Homo sapiens: one gene and its partner. The protein of the gene in region 1 purifies or fractionates together with the protein of each later gene. This does not show direct contact. Each region holds a gene or a part of one and is shown on either strand. Other genes may lie near its edges. The genes, in order: KLK4 and SERPINA1.

Region 1 (3,063 bases):
GTGCCCTACCGCGGGGAACTCTTGCCTCGTTTCTGGCTGGGGTCTGCTGGCGAACGGTGAGCTCACGGGTGTGTGTCTGCCCTCTTCAAGGAGGTCCTCTGCCCAGTCGCGGGGGCTGACCCAGAGCTCTGCGTCCCAGGCAGAATGCCTACCGTGCTGCAGTGCGTGAACGTGTCGGTGGTGTCTGAGGAGGTCTGCAGTAAGCTCTATGACCCGCTGTACCACCCCAGCATGTTCTGCGCCGGCGGAGGGCAAGACCAGAAGGACTCCTGCAACGTGAGAGAGGGGAAAGGGGAGGGCAGGCGACTCAGGGAAGGGTGGAGAAGGGGGAGACAGAGACACACAGGGCCGCATGGCGAGATGCAGAGATGGAGAGACACACAGGGAGACAGTGACAACTAGAGAGAGAAACTGAGAGAAACAGAGAAATAAACACAGGAATAAAGAGAAGCAAAGGAAGAGAGAAACAGAAACAGACATGGGGAGGCAGAAACACACACACATAGAAATGCAGTTGACCTTCCAACAGCATGGGGCCTGAGGGCGGTGACCTCCACCCAACAGAAAATCCTCTTATAACTTTTGACTCCCCAAAAACCTGACTAGAAATAGCCTACTGTTGACGGGGAGCCTTACCAATAACATAAATAGTCGATTTATGCATACGTTTTATGCATTCATGATATACCTTTGTTGGAATTTTTTGATATTTCTAAGCTACACAGTTCGTCTGTGAATTTTTTTAAATTGTTGCAACTCTCCTAAAATTTTTCTAATGTGTTTATTGAAAAAATCCAAGTATAAGTGGACTTGTGCAGTTCAAACCAGGGTTGTTCAAGGGTCAACTGTGTACCCAGAGGGAAACAGTGACACAGATTCATAGAGGTGAAACACGAAGAGAAACAGGAAAAATCAAGACTCTACAAAGAGGCTGGGCAGGGTGGCTCATGCCTGTAATCCCAGCACTTTGGGAGGCGAGGCAGGCAGATCACTTGAGGTAAGGAGTTCAAGACCAGCCTGGCCAAAATGGTGAAATCCTGTCTGTACTAAAAATACAAAAGTTAGCTGGATATGGTGGCAGGCGCCTGTAATCCCAGCTACTTGGGAGGCTGAGGCAGAAGAATTGCTTGAATATGGGAGGCAGAGGTTGAAGTGAGTTGAGATCACACCACTATACTCCAGCTGGGGCAACAGAGTAAGACTCTGTCTCAAAAAAAAAAAAAAAAAAAAGACTTTACAAAGAGATGCAGAGACACTGAGACAGATAAACAAGCCACAAAGGAGACAAAGGAGAGACAGACAAACAGAAACAGACAGACCACAAGCCCAAGAGAAGCAGCCAGCATTCAGGACATAGGACATCGGGAAGCAGGATTAGATGAAGTCAGGGATCTGGAATGGGACTTCCAACAGATATGTTGCTGGGCTATGTTGTTATTGATGATGGTTCTGTCTTTGTTTCTCAGTCTCATTTAGTTCCTTTCTGAGCCCACATCCATTTCCACCTCTCTGTGTTTTGAATTCTGACTCTCCCTCTCTTCACAACAGGGTGACTCTGGGGGGCCCCTGATCTGCAACGGGTACTTGCAGGGCCTTGTGTCTTTCGGAAAAGCCCCGTGTGGCCAAGTTGGCGTGCCAGGTGTCTACACCAACCTCTGCAAATTCACTGAGTGGATAGAGAAAACCGTCCAGGCCAGTTAACTCTGGGGACTGGGAACCCATGAAATTGACCCCCAAATACATCCTGCGGAAGGAATTCAGGAATATCTGTTCCCAGCCCCTCCTCCCTCAGGCCCAGGAGTCCAGGCCCCCAGCCCCTCCTCCCTCAAACCAAGGGTACAGATCCCCAGCCCCTCCTCCCTCAGACCCAGGAGTCCAGACCCCCCAGCCCCTCCTCCCTCAGACCCAGGAGTCCAGCCCCTCCTCCCTCAGACCCAGGAGTCCAGACCCCCCAGCCCCTCCTCCCTCAGACCCAGGAGTCCAGCCCCTCCTCCCTCAGACCCAGGAGTCCAGACCCCCCAGCCCCTCCTCCCTCAGACCCAGGGGTCCAGGCCCCCAACCCCTCCTCCCTCAGACTCAGAGGTCCAGGCCCCCAACCCCTCCTTCCCCAGACCCAGAGGTCCAGGTCCCAGCCCCTCCTCCCTCAGACCCAGCGGTCCAATGCCACCTAGACTCTCCCTGTACACAGTGCCCCCTTGTGGCACGTTGACCCAACCTTACCAGTTGGTTTTTCATTTTTTGTCCCTTTCCCCTAGATCCAGAAATAAAGTCTAAGAGAAGCGCAGGTTCTGTTTGTAGTGTCCTCCTTGCTTCCCCTTCCATTCAAGAGATTCCAGCAAATGGCTTTCCCTCCATGGGTCGCATTTCCCTATCTGGGAAATGCGAGCTTTGACCAGGAGGGCCACAGAGTTTCAGAGGGAGGGGCCATTCCCTGGATAGTTAAGAGAAACCAGTGCCATGGATGTTGTCCAGTTTCTGAAAAGTCAGGTCAGCAAATGGTAACCGTAGAGATTTTCTTGCTTAGTTTAACTATTCAGCTTTAGTTGATCTATATTCATTTTTGTCTTCTTAACTGCATTTCAAGAATTTTTAATTTGCATGTGTCTCAGAAGTTGGCTGCTGCAGCTAGAGTCTAGTGGGGAGAATTGTGGCGAGGGCTACTGTGAGTGACAGCAACAGAGACCAAGGAGTAGAAAGAGGGAAGTTTGAGGGGCACAATGGGGCAACTGAGGGGCAAGGAGATGGGAGACTGAATAAGTATATAGATAATTTGAACAGTATGATTAACATACTCTATTTAATGGTCATATATGGAATGTTGCACCCAGTATCTGAAAAATATAGAATCATTTCAAAAGACATACAGCTACCAGAATGGCTAAAATTGAAAAGAATAACAGCATCAAGTCTTGGTTATATCTACAGCAGCTGTAACTCTCCTACATTGCTGGGGGTAGGGGGTAAAATGCTACAACCATTTTGGAAAACAGCTTGGCAGATTCTTAGAAAGACAGGCATACATCCACATGACGGCTAGCAATTCTACTCCTAGGTATTTAGGTA
Region 2 (3,500 bases), on another chromosome or scaffold:
ATACCATTCTTGCTGTCAGGTTTTTTTAGGATTAAACAAATGACAAAGACTGTGGGGATGGTGTGTGGCATACAGCAGGTGATGGACTCTTCTGTATCTCAGGCTGCCTTCCTGCCCCTGAGGGGTTAAAATGCCAGGGTCCTGGGGGCCCCAGGGCATTCTAAGCCAGCTCCCACTGTCCCAGGAAAACAGCATAGGGGAGGGGAGGTGGGAGGCAAGGCCAGGGGCTGCTTCCTCCACTCTGAGGCTCCCTTGCTCTTGAGGCAAAGGAGGGCAGTGGAGAGCAGCCAGGCTGCAGTCAGCACAGCTAAAGTCCTGGCTCTGCTGTGGCCTTAGTGGGGGCCCAGGTCCCTCTCCAGCCCCAGTCTCCTCCTTCTGTCCAATGAGAAAGCTGGGATCAGGGGTCCCTGAGGCCCCTGTCCACTCTGCATGCCTCGATGGTGAAGCTCTGTTGGTATGGCAGAGGGGAGGCTGCTCAGGCATCTGCATTTCCCCTGCCAATCTAGAGGATGAGGAAAGCTCTCAGGAATAGTAAGCAGAATGTTTGCCCTGGATGAATAACTGAGCTGCCAATTAACAAGGGGCAGGGAGCCTTAGACAGAAGGTACCAAATATGCCTGATGCTCCAACATTTTATTTGTAATATCCAAGACACCCTCAAATAAACATATGATTCCAATAAAAATGCACAGCCACGATGGCATCTCTTAGCCTGACATCGCCACGATGTAGAAATTCTGCATCTTCCTCTAGTTTTGAATTATCCCCACACAATCTTTTTCGGCAGCTTGGATGGTCAGTTTCAGCACCTTTTACAGATGATGAAGCTGAGCCTCGAGGGATGTGTGTCGTCAAGGGGGCTCAGGGCTTCTCAGGGAGGGGACTCATGGTTTCTTTATTCTGCTACACTCTTCCAAACCTTCACTCACCCCTGGTGATGCCCACCTTCCCCTCTCTCCAGGCAAATGGGAGAGACCCTTTGAAGTCAAGGACACCGAGGAAGAGGACTTCCACGTGGACCAGGTGACCACCGTGAAGGTGCCTATGATGAAGCGTTTAGGCATGTTTAACATCCAGCACTGTAAGAAGCTGTCCAGCTGGGTGCTGCTGATGAAATACCTGGGCAATGCCACCGCCATCTTCTTCCTGCCTGATGAGGGGAAACTACAGCACCTGGAAAATGAACTCACCCACGATATCATCACCAAGTTCCTGGAAAATGAAGACAGAAGGTGATTCCCCAACCTGAGGGTGACCAAGAAGCTGCCCACACCTCTTAGCCATGTTGGGACTGAGGCCCATCAGGACTGGCCAGAGGGCTGAGGAGGGTGAACCCCACATCCCTGGGTCACTGCTACTCTGTATAAACTTGGCTTCCAGAATGAGGCCACCACTGAGTTCAGGCAGCGCCATCCATGCTCCATGAGGAGGACAGTACCCAGGGGTGAGGAGGTAAAGGTCTCGTCCCTGGGGACTTCCCACTCCAGTGTGGACACTGTCCCTTCCCAATATCCAGTGCCCAGGGCAGGGACAGCAGCACCACCACACGTTCTGGCAGAACCAAAAAGGAACAGATGGGCTTCCTGGCAAAGGCAGCAGTGGAGTGTGGAGTTCAAGGGTAGAATGTCCCTGGGGGGACGGGGGAAGAGCCTGTGTGGCAAGGCCCAGAAAAGCAAGGTTCGGAATTGGAACAGCCAGGCCATGTTCGCAGAAGGCTTGCGTTTCTCTGTCACTTTATCGGTGCTGTTAGATTGGGTGTCCTGTAGTAAGTGATACTTAAACATGAGCCACACATTAGTGTATGTGTGTGCATTCGTGATTATGCCCATGCCCTGCTGATCTAGTTCGTTTTGTACACTGTAAAACCAAGATGAAAATACAAAAGGTGTCGGGTTCATAATAGGAATCGAGGCTGGAATTTCTCTGTTCCATGCCAGCACCTCCTGAGGTCTCTGCTCCAGGGGTTGAGAAAGAACAAAGAGGCTGAGAGGGTAACGGATCAGAGAGCCCAGAGCCAAGCTGCCCGCTCACACCAGACCCTGCTCAGGGTGGCATTGTCTCCCCATGGAAAACCAGAGAGGAGCACTCAGCCTGGTGTGGTCACTCTTCTCTTATCCACTAAACGGTTGTCACTGGGCACTGCCACCAGCCCCGTGTTTCTCTGGGTGTAGGGCCCTGGGGATGTTACAGGCTGGGGGCCAGGTGACCCAACACTACAGGGCAAGATGAGACAGGCTTCCAGGACACCTAGAATATCAGAGGAGGTGGCATTTCAAGCTTTTGTGATTCATTCGATGTTAACATTCTTTGACTCAATGTAGAAGAGCTAAAAGTAGAACAAACCAAAGCCGAGTTCCCATCTTAGTGTGGGTGGAGGACACAGGAGTAAGTGGCAGAAATAATCAGAAAAGAAAACACTTGCACTGTGGTGGGTCCCAGAAGAACAAGAGGAATGCTGTGCCATGCCTTGAATTTCTTTTCTGCACGACAGGTCTGCCAGCTTACATTTACCCAAACTGTCCATTACTGGAACCTATGATCTGAAGAGCGTCCTGGGTCAACTGGGCATCACTAAGGTCTTCAGCAATGGGGCTGACCTCTCCGGGGTCACAGAGGAGGCACCCCTGAAGCTCTCCAAGGTGAGATCACCCTGACGACCTTGTTGCACCCTGGTATCTGTAGGGAAGAATGTGTGGGGGCTGCAGCTCTGTCCTGAGGCTGAGGAAGGGGCCGAGGGAAACAAATGAAGACCCAGGCTGAGCTCCTGAAGATGCCCGTGATTCACTGACACGGGACGTGGTCAAACAGCAAAGCCAGGCAGGGGACTGCTGTGCAGCTGGCACTTTCGGGGCCTCCCTTGAGGTTGTGTCACTGACCCTGAATTTCAACTTTGCCCAAGACCTTCTAGACATTGGGCCTTGATTTATCCATACTGACACAGAAAGGTTTGGGCTAAGTTGTTTCAAAGGAATTTCTGACTCCTTCGATCTGTGAGATTTGGTGTCTGAATTAATGAATGATTTCAGCTAAAGATGACACTTATTTTGGAAAACTAAAGGCGACCAATGAACAACTGCAGTTCCATGAATGGCTGCATTATCTTGGGGTCTGGGCACTGTGAAGGTCACTGCCAGGGTCCGTGTCCTCAAGGAGCTTCAAGCCGTGTACTAGAAAGGAGAGAGCCCTGGAGGCAGACGTGGAGTGACGATGCTCTTCCCTGTTCTGAGTTGTGGGTGCACCTGAGCAGGGGGAGAGGCGCTTGTCAGGAAGATGGACAGAGGGGAGCCAGCCCCATCAGCCAAAGCCTTGAGGAGGAGCAAGGCCTATGTGACAGGGAGGGAGAGGATGTGCAGGGCCAGGGCCGTCCAGGGGGAGTGAGCGCTTCCTGGGAGGTGTCCACGTGAGCCTTGCTCGAGGCCTGGGATCAGCCTTACAACGTGTCTCTGCTTCTCTCCCCTCCAGGCCGTGCATAAGGCTGTGCTGACCATCGACGAGAAAGG

The links.
Region 2: the proteins of KLK4 (region 1) and SERPINA1 purify together in Homo sapiens (affinity purification with mass spectrometry; one large-scale study listed by BioGRID and IntAct). This does not show direct contact.

The regions. Positions count from the first base shown.
Region 1 is NC_000019.10:50,905,572-50,908,634, reverse strand, and holds the end of KLK4 (kallikrein-4 isoform 1 preproprotein), read left to right. Parts: coding exon 1-56; intron 57-139; coding exon 140-276; intron 277-1,548; coding exon 1,549-1,701; 3' UTR 1,702-2,284; downstream 2,285-3,063. UniProt on the Homo sapiens protein: Has a major role in enamel formation. Required during the maturation stage of tooth development for clearance of enamel proteins and normal structural patterning of the crystalline matrix.
Region 2 is NC_000014.9:94,378,603-94,382,102, reverse strand, and holds part of SERPINA1 (alpha-1-antitrypsin precursor), read left to right. Parts: intron 1-961; coding exon 962-1,232; intron 1,233-2,491; coding exon 2,492-2,639; intron 2,640-3,462; coding exon 3,463-3,500.